Regions from separate parts of the Homo sapiens genome. Here region 1 is linked to region 2. Evidence: fine-mapped expression QTL. Tissue or cell type: whole blood. Region 2 holds a variant in brackets; the other region holds the start of a gene. All regions are shown on one strand. Distances are between the middles of the regions.

Region 1 (8,105 bases), 560 kb before region 2:
AATAAATCAAAGAGGGACCACTAAGAACATTGTCAATCATTAATCCAGAAATCTTGAACTTCCTGAGTTTTCTATCCCTAAAAGAAGTTATTTATCAATAGCCTTGTTACAGATTTTTTAATACAATAATTTTGACTTTTCTATAGTACAAAAAGTAAAAATTGATAAAGAGGATAACTTGGAAAAAATTAATATAACAACACTGAGACACATTCTTGACTAGCACTCTATTTCTGTACTAAATTTAGGAGGCATGTAAATGGCACGTTTCCTAAGTGAAATAAGACAGACACACAGAGAAAAATCCTTCATGGTTCCACTCATATTTGAAATCTATTTTTAAAAGTTCAATACATTAAAAAAGGTGGTTACATTGGTGGGAAGGAAATAGGTAAATGAAGGGCAAAAGTTGTAAAGGCGTAGTAGAATAAGTGAATCTGATGTACAACCTGTAGGCATATTTGATAATGTATTGTTTTTGGGAAATATTCTGAGGGACTAGATTTTTGGTGTTCTTATCATAAAAAAGAAGCACAGCTAAGTGATATGATAGATTTGTTAATTTTCTTCATTATAGTAATCATTTCATTATGTATATGTGTCTCAAAACAACATACTTTGCACCTTGAAAATATAAAATAAAATAAATTTAAAAATAAAGGTAATTTTGTTCTTCCATGTCAGCTGAAAATAAGTGAAGACTGGGTCAGTAATAACATTGCTTTGCTGAATTCAGAGAATTCTAATAAAATATTTTTAGTTGGGAAGCTATCTGTATTAAAAAAAATGATCTAAGGCTGGTAACAGTGGCCATACTTATAATCCCAGTGCTTTGGGAGGCCAAGGCAGAAAAATCACTTGAGGCCAGGAGTTTGAGATCAGCCTGGGCAACATAGTAAGACCTTATCTCTACCAAAAATAAAAAGAAAATTAGCCTTGAGTGGTGGTGTGCACCTGTTGTCCCAGCTACTCAGGAGGCTGAGTTGGGAGGATTGCTTGAGACCAGCTGGGAGTTTGAGACTGCAGTGAGTTCTGATTGTGCTATTGCACTCCAGCCTGGGTGACAGAGTGAGAACTTGTCTCAAAAACAGCAACTAATTATTTTGCATAGCCATTTTACCTGAAAGGTATAATTATTTCTTCTACAATTAATAAATCTGCATATGTCTAGGCCAGCTATATCAGGTAGAGCTTGTCCTCTAGTACTTACATCTATAAAACAAATAAGACAGTTATAAGGAGGCTCTAAGAAAAACAATTTTTTCTCATTCTGGACTTTGAGGTCTTAATTCTTTAAACTAATTTTCTGTCTCAATAGTGGATATCACCCTGAAACTTAATTTGTCCAAACACCTCACATAATCTGAAATTTTACAAAACATAAAGTTCATAGGATCAATACATTCTTGTGCCTTAAGTCTCCAGGCATTCAAGGATACTATTATGTGGAAACTCAGGCCTTCTACTGCATTATTGAAGGAGCACATTTGAGACTCACAGCACTTGTTGCTGTTAACAGGTCTGGACAATGAGTGATGTCAGTCCAGATAATTCTGAGGAAGGCTTTCTGCCTTGTTATAAGGAGGATAATCACTGGAGACTCTAGACAAGTTCCCAGTCATCATTCCAGCGTTTAGTTGCTGTTTTTGTAATCTCAGCATTTTTGGAGGCCAAGGCAGGTGGATCACTTTAGGTCAAGAGTTCAAGACTGGCCTGTTCAACATGGTAAAACTTTGTCTTTACCTAAAATACAAAAATTAGCGGGGCATGGTGGTGCACACCTGCAATCCCAGCTACTATGGAGGCTGAGGCAGGATAATCACTTGAACCAAGGAGGCAAAGATAGCAGTGAACCGAGATCATGCCACTGCACTCTAGCCTCGGTGACAGACTGAGACTCTGTCTCAATAAATAAATAAATAAATAAAATCACCTCTTGCATGGAGGGTGAATAAGGAGTATAACATGAGGACGTGTGAGGAAAATATGCATTAGAAGGGAAGGAGAACATACTTAACATGCCAGTGGAAGGTGAAATTCTAAATTATCTGAGAATATTTTTGAGAACTTTGTTTAATTCTCAGTGTAGAAAGATGTACCCTTTGAATGACATTAAAAATTCACTAGAAGAGTGAATAGTTAAAATGTCACATAAGTAACAAGAGTCTCAAAACAAAAAGTGTTCTAAAAGTTTAAAGTCCGTATTTGAGATAGAGGAGAGAATAAATAATAGTTCATTAATTAGTCTTTATTATGTGAAAAGACTTTTCTAAAATTCTTCCATAATAATTGAAGATATAAATTACAATAATTAAAATTTACAAAAGAATAAAAGCATTAAAATAAAGTGTGAAAAATTTAAAAAGGGTAAAGATGAAAATTATTTAATTTTTAATCTCAAAAATCCGAAAGTGATTTTATCAATGTCCTAAGAAAATTAAAATGAAAACAAACTTAATAATGTAAAGAAAGGAGGTTTCTGCCGGGCTGGGGGCGGGAGCTACGGCTTCTCTGGGGACGCGGAAGCGAGAAGCAGGGACCTTGGGGCGCGCCCGGTTTTCCGGGACGGTGCCCCGGCCCCCAGCCCACGCCTCCGGCCGCTGGCATGGTGCTGCTGGCTGGGACCCGGCCGCAGGGTGGCTGGGAGCGCTGCATGACCCCGCCACCGCCGTCCCCACTCCTAGGCGCACAGGTCGAGGAGGACCGCGCTGACTACAAAGAGTTCCAGGGCCCCACACCTGCAGCATAGCCTGGGACGACTCTGTACCCTTTCCAGGACGAGGAGGAGCACGGCGTCGAGGGCTTGGAGAGCGTCCCGGAGGAGGGCGTCCAGGAGGCATGGGGCTGCTGCGGACGCTGGTGCGGCGAGGGGTGAGCGTTGAGAAGGCGCAGGAGACTGACCACAATGGCTGGACCAGCCTTAATGTCGCCTGCTACCACGGCTTTGTGGATATACCGTGGTGGCCTTAGCTGAGTAACCCCACACTGACGTCAACTGGCAGGACAGGGAGGGGAACGCAGCCCTAAATACAGCTGCACAGGCAGGAGCTGCCTCTGGCCCCATGGGCACCGTTGCCTTGGACACTGGCTCTCAGCCTTGTGCTTCCTGGTCAGCATCACGTGGGCTGGTTCATTTGAGCTTTAACACAGATCTGGTGGAAACACAGGCTGCCAGGCCCTGCCCCTGGAGTCTTTCTTTGAATAGGCCTGGGGTGGGGCCCAAGAATGAGCAGAAGAACAGGTTTCCTGGTGAGGCTGATGCCGCTGGCCCAGGGTTCTCACGTTGAGGACCGAGAGCTTTGAGGTTTTCATACCTGATGATGTCCAGGAACCCTTCTCAGTAGGCACTGAAGACCATCAGCAGAATCACAGACCCCAGGAGAGATGTCGTCAGACAGACACAGAGGCATCACCGAATTAAAGTGAAAATGAAGAAAGGAGCTGAGCATCTGTTTCATGACTTTCGTGGCTGTTTTACTAAAGAGGCTATCCTGGCCCAGTCAGGGCACGCTATCATCACCAACTACTTGTTGAACTACGTTCAGGGTCTTGATCTTGAAGGAGGGACGCGTTCGGGTTGAAAGCCGCCATGCAGGGTCGAACGGATCGCATCGGAGCCCTGAGCTAGCAGGGGCGGGTGTCCACGCGAGGGCCCCCGCCGTGGGATGTCGCCAGAGGAGTGGCCACTTATACGTCCGCCTCATGCAGAGGCTCCTGGAGCGCCCCTGCCGGGAGCTGTTGGGGAAAAAGTACCAGCTTGAGCTGCCGCCGCTCCCCGAGAGGCCGCAAAAGCCCGAGGGCTCCAAGAACTGCCTGCAGAGGCTCAGGGACTGCGAGCTGTCCGCGCTGACGCCGCGCTCCATGCGGGGCCCAGAGGACCGGGGCGCCCTGGACCACATGGTCAGGATGACCACGAGCCTCTAACAGCCCCGCCGGGGCCCTCGCGTGCCAGACTATGTGCCCCGAGAGCACCTTGTGCTGGGGGAAGAGGCGGCTGGCGGTGCAGGAAATCCTGGCGGCGCAGGAAATTCCGGCGGCGCGGCGAGGGGTGGGGGGAGGCAGGCGCAGGAGGCGGGCGAAGAGGAGGGCGCAGAGTAGCATAAGCCGCTCGGCCTAGCGGCCGCTGGCTCCACAAAGGCCTCCCCAAGAGCCGGCCTCCCACCTGCCCGGCTGCCGGGGTCCTGGGGCTCCGCCGCCCCCGCCCCGCGGACGGCCAGCCTCCTGCCCCTGCAGTGCCTGCAGCAGAGCAGCTTGGGGCCCAGCGTGGTGGTGCCCAGGTCCGCCTCAGCAAGGTGCCCGCGCCCACCTTCCAACCCAAAAGGCCGGCGCGGAAGGGCAGCATAAAGGCAGCGGCCACCTGCGGATACCCAAGTGGCCTTACAAGGTGGCCAAGGAGGAGAAACGGGAGGCGGAGGAGGCCGAGAAGAGGCGCCAGGCCAAGGTGCAGGAGAAGCGCCCGCCGCCCTGGAAGAAGAGGACGTGAGAGTCCGCGGGTGCTTGGCACGGGGTTTGAGGGCTGGGTGAGGCCGCGGGGCTGGGCACCATGGCAGCTCTCGGGACCACCGGGCAGCGCGCGTTTCCACGCTGTCTCTCTAGGATGCTCCCAGAAAGGGGCTGGGGGAGCCACATCGATTCGCTTCACACCAGCCACCCTAGCAATCAGTACACCTAGGGGGCATGTTCCCTAAAAGGCTCCCTTTAGAGAACCTCAATTAAGATTTTTTTAAAGATTAATTTATTAGGCCAGGCGCGGTGGCTCACGCCTGTAATCCCAGCACTTTGGGAGGCCGAGGCGGGCGGATCACCTGAGGTTAGGAGTTTGAGACTAGCCTGACCAACATGGAGAAACCCCATCTCTACTAAAAATACAAAATTAGCCGGGCGTGGTGGCACATGCCTGTAATCCCAACTACTCGGGAGGCTGAGGCAGGAGAATCGCTTGAACCCTGGAGGCAGAGGTGGCAGGGAGCCAAGATGGCGCCATTGCACTTCAGCCTAGGCAACAAGAGCCAAACTCCGTCTCAATTAAAAAAAAATCAATTTATTAAAGGATATTTTCTGTGTAATTTTGTATTTTTAATTGTTGTCCAATTTGCCAAGTTTTACAAGTGATAGGGTCCCTTGTATCCAAGGAAGTTTTTATACACTTACCTGAAGACCTTTTATTTAAAACACTGTTTCCAGCAATAAATATTTATGATATCTGTAGGACTTTACACAGAAATCATGGGATTCTCTCCTTTTTGGGCTGTTTGCTTTGGTCTTCTCATCATGGGTGGATGTTTTTATTAATTAGATTAAGTGATGCCGGATATTTCTATTTGATGGAGGGATTGACTGGTTCAGCCACATGATCAAGTGAGACAGAGAGATCAGATTTTATTGTATCTTTTTAAAAAGTATTATCCAATACAGTCATATATTGAGGAAAAACATTTATCGTCAAATTATAAAACAATGCAGAGATAGGCATGTCTGTATTGCTAGAATTAAACTCATTTTAAGCAAGGAGTTTTAGATAAACTGTATACAAAAATCTTTAACATATTAAAATAGACATGAGAAAAATGTGTCATTTGATAAAATGGGGGAAATGTAATAAATGATTACCAGAAATATAAAATTAAGCCGTATATGCTCTTAAGTAAATCGAATCTAGGCATCCTTAAAATGTAAAAAAGGATGCAACAAGAGTAAGGAGCCCAGAATGATGTAAATTACAGGAATGGGGTGTAATGTAACCTCTAGAGGAGGTGATGTTTAGAAGAAGCAAAGAGAATGCAATGAGAAGCAAACTTGTTTTAGGCAAATTCTCCTGGAGTGGACCAGGCAGCCCCCTCTTCCAGACTCAGTTCCAGAGATTCCCTTATGTGGGTATTTGTTTTATTATTCCTTTGAGGACTGCATTTGGTGTTTAGTTCATCCTCATGTGGACCCTATGGAATTTCCAAGATGCGGGGCCTTAGCACTGTGGCACCTTCCTGCCACACGTACATAATTCACAGCATTACCAAGTCACCACAAGCCCCACGCTCACCTCTGTCAGCCCAGGACCCAGCCAGGCAGTGCCACGTGGTCTCCCAGGCTCGCTTCTCCAAGCCGAACTGCGAAAGTTATTGAGGCACTGGCCCAGGGAACTGAGCCTTGGGCCTGTCCTAAAGCTCCATAGGTGACTGCACTGCAGCCCACATGGAGAGCTGCAGCTCTAACACAGGGATTTTGAGAGGCCTCAGTGCCATTTAAGTGGCACTTCCAGGACACCCATCCTGAGCTCCCACAAAGGGCGCCACCTTCCCAAGAACGTCTAATTGTCATTGGAACAGCCAGTGTCAGGCAGCTTCTGCTCAGGCTGATGTGGCGTCTGACCCTTGGTGGGTTGCCAGACATTCCTTCCTGTTTCTGCCATGGGAAGTTGGCACTGGGAATGGTATGGAGCCCCCACTTCTACCCTGAGCCTTGGGTGTCTGCTGCTTCCAGGTGAAAAATGGACATTTCTGATACTGCCCAGCCACTACGGCACCACAACCCATGCTCATAGTCTCCAGGGATGTGTAGAACGGCAATGGCAGGACAGCAAACAACTGGCGATTTCCCCAGGTCCCACGCTCTTGCGGAGTGAGTATGTTGGGTCCCTGTCCCCAGTGTGTTCCAGCCTTACCCAGGTGCACAGAGTACCCTGGGGCCAGCACAGGGCTTGTCCAGTGATGCTCCTGGTGTTCACAAAATGGCTCCAGAGATACCTGCATTTTGAAAAGCCTGCCGAGCCAGCAAGTGTAGGGCAGGACCCGGATTTCTTTGGCAAATCTGAAGGTGAGAGGGCCACTTGCCTGCTGAGTAGAAGCTGCCTTTACCTGGCCAGTGTATGCAACTTGAGAGAAAATGACAGCTGCATGGGGCGCTCTGGTGGGACTGGGAAGTCTGATCTTCCGGGGAGCTGTAGATAGTGAATTTCAAGTTGACAGCTACCTTCTCAGGGATTTATATATAAATATAGTTAGAGGAAAAGCTAAAATCTATTTTACTAGTTTTTAGTGTTTGTGTAAAGTAAGCTTAAACTGGACAGAATAAACATTTCTCAGACAATGTTGATGCTACTGATTACAAGTTAGATGGCTGGAGCTTGCCCCTTGGTGGAGAATTTCTTGGTGATTGGAGACTGGGGACTCTGGCAGCAGAAGTGGCTTTATGGTGGGTGTGAAGTTGCTTCTGCCCCTCTGAGTGGCCTCTCATGGATGTGAATGCGTGTATTGACACCAGTGAAATCCACCTCCGTGTGCGTGGAGGTGGCTGATGAGAACACAAGTGAGCCAGTCCTGGTTCTTCCCTCCAGAACCGGTCACTCCCAGTCTGACGTTGGAGCATGTGAACTAAGAGTGACATTTTTTTCTACTTGCTTCTGTGAATAAAGTGTTCTACAGTCAGCCAGCACTAAACACCAGAAAGGAGGAGGGAACAGCGTGGAGCAATTCATCTGGAATTACCTCGGTGTGCAGAGGCTGTCCCTTGGCTCCACTTGGGATAAACATTGTGAAACATCGTGGGCCTCTTTCTTCTCAAGCTCCTCCTGACAGCCTCCTGGCAACACTAGAGGCCTCAAGACTATGGAGATCAGAATTGCAATGGCTTTGTCATCTCAGCATTGACCACTCCTGAGACCCAAGGTTCCTCCTGGGAGCAGGAGACAAGGAGTTTGTGATGTTGGATGGAAAATAGGATATATGAATGCAGAAGGGCTGTGCTGGACCCCTCTTTTCGCTTCTCTCCCTGCTGTCAGCAGTGTCTCTGGCATGGAGGCGAATCTGTTGTGGGTGAAACAGAAGCCCCTGGGGTAGGACCAGACCCCAGGCCTGAAAAGGATGCAAAGCCTGCTGTTTCAGGCTGTCAGGAAGAATCGTGGGTACCGAGTGATTATGATGAAATGCAACCCAGAGAGGAAATGAATGGGCCCTCACTAAGAAGTGGGTCTGACATGTCTCTGGCAGCCCACCGGCAAGAGCACGACATGCCCTGCAGCCCCACCATCCACACTACATGATGTGGGAGGGCTGTCTGTTCATTCTTACACTGGGGACCCAAGCCTGCTCTGAGGAGTGAGTCACAGCCCT
Region 2 (8,105 bases):
CTCATAGGATGAGTTAGGAAGTGTTCTCTCTGATTATATTTTCTGGAAGAGACTGTAGAATATTGATATAATTTCTTCCTTGAATTTTTGGTAGAATTCACCAGTGAATCTATCTGGGCCTGGTACTTTATGTTTTGAAAGGTTATTAATTATTGGCTTGGTTTCTTTAACACAGATAGACCTGTTCGGATTGTTTTTTTTTGTTTGTTTTTTTTTTTGTTTTTTTGAGACAGGATCTCACTCTGTTACCCAAGCTGGTGTAGCACAATCACCTCTCACTGCAGCCTTGACATCCTGTGCTCAAGCAATCCTCCCACCTCTGCCTCCCAAGTAGCTGGGACAACAGGTGCGCACTAACACACCCATCAAATTTTTTATGTTTTGTAGAGACAGGGTCTCATTATGTTGCCCAGGCTGGTCTCAAACTCCTGGCCTCAAGAGATCCTCCTACCTCAGCCTCCCAAAGTGCTGGGATTACATGCATGAACCACCATCCTTCAGCATAGATTGTCTATTTCTTCTTGAATGAATTTTGACAGAATGTATATTTCAAGGAATTTTTCCATTTCACCTAGGTTATCAGATTTGTGGGCATCAAGTTTTTCATAATAGTCCTTTATGATCCTTTCAGTGTCCATAAAAGGCCATTAGTGATGTCACCCTTTCATTTTTCATATTAGTAATTTGTGTCTTCCCTCTTTTTTTCTTAGCCTGGCTGGAGGCTTATCAGTTTCACCTACCTTCAAATAAACAGATTTTGATTTTGCTGATTTTCTCTACTGATTTCCTGTTTTCAATTCATTGATATCTATTCTAATTTTTATTATTTACTTTCTTCTGCTTACTTTGGATTTAATTTACTCTTTTTTCTACTTTCCTAAGGCGGAAGCTTAGATTACTGATCTTCGATATTCTTTTCTAATATAGAATCTAATAATCACTTTAATTCATTCAATGTTATAAATTTCCCCCAATCACTGCTTTTGCTACATCCCACACATTTTTATTAGTTGTATTTTCATTTCCATTAGTTCAAAACATTGCTTAATTTCTCTATGTTTCTTCTTTGACCCAGATATTACTCAGAAGTGTATTGTTCAATCTCCAGATATTTTGATGGCTTCCAGCTATCTTCCTTTTATTGATTTGAGGTTTAATTCTGTTGTGGTCTGACAGCAGATAGTATATGATGTATATTCTTTAAATTTATTAAGGTGTGTTTCATGGCCTAAAATGTGGTATCTTGGTGAATGTTCCATGTGAGCTTGAGAAGAATGTGTAATTTTCTGTTGTTGGATGAAGTAGTCTATAGATGTCCATTTTATCCAGTTGATTGCTGGTGTTGTTGAGTTCAACTGTGTTCTTACTGATTTTCTGCTTGTTCCGTCTGCCGATTTCTGATCAACGAGTGTTGAAGTCTTCAGCTTTAGTAGTGGATTCATCTGTTTCTCCTTGCAGTTCTGTCAATTTTTCCCTTACATATTTCTATGCTCTGTTGTTAGGTGCATACACACATTCAGGATTGTTATGTCTTCTTGGAGAACTGACTCCTTTTTCTTATGTAATGCCCCTCTTTATCTCTGGTAACTTTCCTTGCTCTTTAAGTCTGCTCTGCCTGAATTAATACAGATATTCTGGGGGGTGTTTTAGTTAAATATTTGTATGGTGTATCTTTCTCCATCACTTTAATTTTAATCTAGATGCATCTTTATATTTAGAATGGGTTTCTTGTAGACTACATATAGCTGGGTCTGGTTTTTTTAATCTACTCTGATAATCTCTTTTATTTTATTTTTCTTTCCACCTTTTATATTAGGTTCAACGGGTACATGTGAAGGTTTATTATTACATGGGTAAATTCATGTCATGGGAGTTTGGTGTACAGGACATTTTGTCACCCAGGTAATAAGCAGATTACCCAATAGGTAGTTTTTCAATCTTCACCCTCCTCCCAGCCTCCACCCTTAAGTAGCCCCCGGATGTCTGTTGTTCCCTTCTATGTGTCTGTGTATACTCAGTGTTTAGCTCCCATTGATAAGTGAGAACATGCAGTATTTGGTTTTCTGTTTCTGTGTTAATTCACTTAAGATGATGGCCTCCAGCTCTATCCATGTTGCTGCAAAGGACATTGATTACATTCTTTTATATGGCTCTGTGGTATTCCATAGTGTATATATAGTCTATCATTGATGGGCATCTAGGTTGATTCCATGTCTTTGCTATTGTGAATAGTGCTGCGATGAACATATGCCTGCATGTGTCTTTACAGTAGAATGGTTTACATAACCTTGGGTATACACCCAGGAATGGAATTGCTGGGTTGAATGGTAGTTCTGTTTTAAGTTCTTTGATAAATCTCCAGACTACTTTCCACAGTGGCTGAACTAATTTATGTTCTGACCAGCAGTGTATAAGCATTCTCTTTCCTCCACAACCTCTCCAGCATCTGTTATTTTTTGACTTTTTAATAATAGCCATTCTGAGTGGTATGAGATGGTATCTCATTGTGGTTTTGATTTGATTATCGATATTGAGTATTTTTTCTATGCTTGTTGCCAGTGCAGATGTCTTTTGAGAAGTGTCTGTTCATCGCTTCTCGGCCTTTTGGCTAAGATCAAGTGAGAAGTGTCTGTTCATGTTCTTTGCCCATTTTTTAATGGGGTTGTTTGTTTTTTGCTTGTGGGTTTAAGTTCCATATAGATTCAAGACATTAGATTTTTGTTAGATGCATAGGCTGTAAACATTTTCTTTCATTCTATGGGTTGTCTGTTTACCCTGTTGATAGTTTCTTTTGCTTTGCAGAATCTCTGTCTTAGTATATTTACACCATTGGCATTCAAAATTATTATTGACATAGATTAATATCTACCATACCCGTTACTGTTTTTCTATTTGTTGCCTTGTTATTTGTTCCTCTATTTTTCCTCCCACTCTTTTTCTGCCTTTTGTGGTTTTTAATTGAGCATTTTATATGACCAAAAAATAAATAGTCAGCATATTTCTGCTATGGTCTGAATATGTTCCCCCAAAATTCATATGTTGAAATGTAACCACCAATATGATAAGAAATGAGGCCCTTAGGAGGTGATTAAGTCATGAGGGTGGAGCCCTCAATAATGGATTAGTGCTTTAACAAAATAGGTGAGAGGGGGCTATTCATCTTTTCCACCACGCAAGGACACAGCAGGAAGGTACCACCTTGGAAGCAGAGAGTGAGCCCTTATCAGACACCAAATCTGCTCTTCCCTTGATCTTAGACTTCCCAGCCTCCAGAACTATGAAAAATAAATTTGTATTATTTATAAATTATGCAGTCTGAGGTATTTTGTTATAGCAGCCCAAGCGCACTAAGACAACTTCCTTTTTAAAAAAAATACTTTTCTTCTTATTTTTTTCACTTGTTTCAGTATTTTCCCTAGATTTGCAGTATACGTCTACAACTAATGCAAATCCATCTTCAAATACCAAATACTACTTCATGGGTTGTACCAAGTATCTTATAATAACAAAATAATCCCAATTCCTGCCTCCTGCCTCTTATGTCTGCTCTCATTTATTTTACTCATACATAAGCATACTTAAGTATATGTTTCTATGTGTATAATATACATATACGATTAAATAATTGAATATATTGTTGCTATTATTATTTTGAACAAACTGTTACCTGTTAGATCAATTCAGAATAAAAAAAAAACACTTTCTATTTTATCCTCCCTCATTCCTTCTTCAGTGCTCTCTTTCTTTATATAGATCCAAGTTTCTGACTTACATGTTTTTCTTTTTCTTTGAAGAACTTTCAATATTTCTTACAAGGCACGTGTACTGACAATAAATTTCCTCAATTTTCGTTTGTCTGAGAAAGTCTGTATTTCTTCTTCACAGAGAGTTGTGGATGGAGCCCCTGCATCGCAGGATGAGAGGCCAGACCAGAGCAAGGCAGAGGATGCCATGTTCCTTCTCACCAACACGTGCTCCTCTCAAGCTGCCAACGGGGCGGCTGCACAACCAGAGTTCCAAATTACAAGCATGTTTTCTGGGAGGGGCC[A/G]CAAGGTAGACAACCCCCCACCTCCGGCAGCTGCCCAGGCCCTAAGCCCTGGAGTCCTGGCTCGGGCTATTACTGACCATCCCTGTGATCCTGGGCAAGAGGTCTATCTGCAGGGGAGGAGGTGCTGAACTAACACACTTGTGCGTAACTCAGGTGGCCCAGGTGGGCCTGCATCTCCAGGCCTTTCCAGGCAAAAGGTAAGAGTATTGGCTTGTGCGGCTCCCGTGACCCACACAAGGTCGTACCTTGGTGCCTTGCCATGAGCAGGCAGTCCTGCGAGTGCCACACTTCTTCCAAGGCCTGAGGTTTGGACAGCCTGGGTGCTCACTCTTTGCTGATCACTTCACAAAGCTATCAGATCCATCCCGCCTTGGTAATAGCTCTTCTCTCAAGGATGTCCTTCCAGCCTGCAAAATGCAAGGCTCCAAGCCTGTGTCCTGGCCAGGCCGGGGTCCAGTCTTGGACTCATACTTACCCCAGCCCACGGCTAGTCTGCAAGGGGACAAAATGGAGAGAGGGCCAAGACACCTGCCTGTCCCCCAGGACCTCTTTGCTTGGCCAGCTGAGGTCATCAGGTCATCGATTGGAAGGCCAGCTCTCCTCTCCACCTCCCATTCTGGCAGCACTTCACAGTTTACAAAGGAAGCTTCTCCACTCCCAAGAGTGTAACTGACCTCATAACTTCCTTAGAGAGGAGGGAAGCTGCTTGCCCAAGACCACACCACTTATAAGGAACAGGCAGGGACAGGGACTCACATCTCCTGTCTCTCCGAGCCCAGTGTAGCTTACACAGCTGCCCTCCCTCCCACCCCACTCATGGGCAGCTCTCAGGCTGCCTTAGGTGGCCAGGAAGCCCACCTGCCTCTTCCCCTAGTCCTGGGAGGGCCACCACATCCTGGGGTCAACATCCAATGAATTTGGCAGGCACTGTGCAGTGTCACTTTAATTAGGAGGCTGATGAGATGGAGGCTGCCATAGCTTTAGCAGTGGACTTTTCCTTAGTCCTGCAGACCCTCCCTACTCCAGCTCAGCCCAAGGCAGAGCCTGCTCGGTCAGCCACTGGCCTCCAGCCTGGCAGTGTCAGGAGGAGGGGAAGTCAGGCCTGGCGCCGGGGCTGGCCAGCCAGGGGCCAAGGACTGCAGAGCTGCTCACGTCCGCACATATCTAAGCATCCACATCCCATGACCTGCTTCCAAGGGCCAAGGCCCCCACCCCTCCACTGGGGACAGCTGCCTTCTGTGCTCAGCCAGAGGTGGCCCAAAAATTCTGGCTGGCCTAGCCTCGTGCCCCAACCTCAGCAGAGAGGCATGCAGAAGGCCACGTCTGCCAAGCCCTCCCAGGCCCTGCCCTACCCCAGGAGTGCATAGTCAGAGGCCATGCACATTCAAATCCTGACCCCTGGACACTGCTGCCCCATCTGGGCTCCTGCCACCCCCAATCCCTGCAAGACCCTAGGGAGAGAGGCTCACCCTCCCTCTCTAGCCTCAGAGCCATTCCCCACTTCCTCCCTCTTCCTTCCTTAGTGCCTGAGTTAGGCGCATGCCTGTCACCACCCACACTGACCTCCAGGCCCCATGAGGGGCCACTAACATAATTTATGTTCATTTTCTCTTCATCTCTCTTCCCATGGATGTCCTTGAATACACGTGCATCCTCAAAACTGTCTAGTAGCCAAAACCGGGGATAATGGATGAGCACGAGTTCTAACCCAGCAGTCACAAAGGCCTCCAGAAGGGCCTCGCTCCCAGGAGCCATAGGATTTGGGGCTCATGGCCATCATATCTAGATTCCAGGAGAGGAAGCTGCCCTGATACCCAGGGATGCTGCAGCAGGTGCAGGCGCTGTTGGGATATTGCTCACCAAGTCCCAGCCACGGGGTAAGGGAGAAATGCCCTCTGCCCCCGGGTTGTCTGCGCTGTTTCTGAGTCCAGCTCTGGCTTGACCGCATGAATCACACATCACGTCCCTGACCGGGTACCCTGTAGCCACCCTCAAGCAGCCATCTCTCCTGAAAGTGCAGGACACCCCCTGGGTTCCACCCCATCATCCCGCCCTTGCTTCTTGCTTGTGAGAGTTCTCACCGTGTGTGTGTGTCTGCCTTTGTCCTGTGCTGTGGGTTTTGTAGACCACCCTGGATGCCCTCTGGCTGGGTTTGATAGATCCTCTCAGCAAGCCTCATGCTTTGCACTGTCACAGTGGCGCCCTTTCCACCAGCCTGAATATGCCAGGGGGCGTCTACCATGTCTGAACAAACAAATGAACAAATGAACAGACCACGGTGTGAGCCTGAGAAGTGGTAGGGGCAGCCTCTGGCCAGCAGGCCCCTCCAGGCGGTCGTGGAGAGTGGGCACCTCCTCCAGGCCCAGGGCCTCCCTCCCTGGCAGCCGGGGCCACCTGCACTGCTTTGGCTAATCCGGCAAACCCTAAGGGAGGCCCAGAGGTGGAGCAGCGACCACAGCAGCCTGCCCTGAGGACCCCGCTCTGGTTTGCCGCTGCCTGCAACCAGCCAGGGGCTGCTGGGCTGGAGGAGGCAAGGAGGAGGGCGAGCCTAAAGGTGCACTCAGCAGGGGCTTCATGAAGAACGAGGGACTGAGGTGGGCCTTGGGGTATAGGTGGGGTTTAGACGATGGACGTGTGGAATGGAGGAGAAAGGGGAGAAGCTTCTAGTTACAGGCAATTGTGTGTGCACAGGCCCAGCACAGGGGAAGCTCAAGCCACCAGGGAGTGGCCCTGAGTCTGTTTTTGGAGTGTCTAGATGTGGGAAGAGGAGGTGCAGGTGCTGAGGCTGCAAAGGCAGGAAGACCCCTGGGGGACAGTGCCAGGCGCCCAGCTAGGCTGGGCAACCCAGACTCTCCTTTTGGTATGAGGCCAAGTTTCACCCCTGAGCAGCCAGGAAGAGAGTGGAGCCAGGCACTTTCTCAGGACAGGAAGCATTGCTGACCGCCAGTGCCAGGCGCCCAGCTAGGCTGGGCAACCCAGACTCTCCTTTTGGTATGAGGCCAAGTTTCACCCCTGAGCAGCCAGGAAGAGAGTGGAGCCAGGCACTTTCTCAGGACAGGAAGCATTGCTGACCGCCAGCAATGCAGGCCTGGGCTGCAGAGGGAGGGCTGGGACTGAGGGGCAGGGGTGGGGATGGTGATGGCAGAGGCCCCAGAAGAGGGTCTGACTGCCCATGGGAAGAATCAAGTGGATGTGGGAAAGCAACCAAAGAGAGACCCTGGGAACCCGTCATGCAAGGGGCAGAAGGTGAGAGAGATGGAGATGTGGTCAGGAGGCCAAAGAAACAGGCAGGGATGCCCAGTGAAGAGGGGTTCCTGGAAGCAGAAAGGGCAGCATCTCCATGGGGCTGCTGAGAGGCCCTGGGGTTTGGAGATTGGAGGTCACTGTGGGCAGCGGGGGTGGCTGATGACGCAGACCGCGCTTCTCTCTGTGAGGATGGACGGGGGCAGAGGAAAGGGAAGGGCTCTGTTTGCCTGCCTGGATCAAAGAGGCCAGGTCTGCTTGAGATGAGGAGCGAGGCATCAGAAAGGCAGAGAGGCAGGAGGGACCAAGGAGAGTTCACAGGGAAGCCCAAGGGCCAGGGCCAAGGGATGGAGGGACGGGCCGTCCAGGTGCTGGGCTGCTGGGTAGCTGGGCCCTCCCCACTTCCTCCTCACCCAGCTCCACCTCTGGGGATCCAGGCCTTCCACAGCTGCAGGGGAGTACCTGGATACCACCCATCAGGCTTTATGTCCCTGCAAGTAGGTGGGGGGCACAGGCAGAAGTCACCTGGGGGAAGGTTCGATATCAGGCCTGGGACAGGCTGCAGGGCTCCACAGGCCTGAGCTCCAGAGCCGCTGCCCCAGGATGCGCAGAACCCAGTGCGAGCTCAGATCCTGTGGTCAGTCTGTTCATTCATTTATTCACTGACTCATTCACTCTTCATTTCCCAGCTCAGCCTGCCCCATGCACTGGGCTCTATGCTGGGATGGGGCCCTTGAGGAGCCACAGTCTGGTGGACACATAGGCCTGTAACCAAATCCTGGCCACAGAGGGTGATGATGCTGCAGGAACCCAG

Evidence for each region. PIP is the estimated chance that this variant, and not a neighbour inherited with it, causes the effect.
Region 1: LINC03052 starts here. The variant in region 2 is fine-mapped to the expression of LINC03052 in whole blood (INTERVAL, PIP above 0.99).

The regions. Positions count from the first base shown.
Region 1 is chr2:95,522,741-95,530,845 of GRCh38, forward strand. LINC03052 (long intergenic non-protein coding RNA 3052) reads right to left here and starts at 4,014. Exons shown (of 1, transcript NR_182300.1): 1 at 2,133-4,014. It also overlaps the pseudogene ANKRD33BP1. RefSeq lists a silencer at 3,994-4,283 and an enhancer at 4,424-4,553.
Region 2 is chr2:96,078,258-96,086,362 of GRCh38, forward strand. No RefSeq gene overlaps it. Among named protein-coding and RNA genes, the nearest start is that of ADRA2B, 34 kb to the right of the region's middle. The variant A/G (reference allele first, on the strand shown) is at 4,049.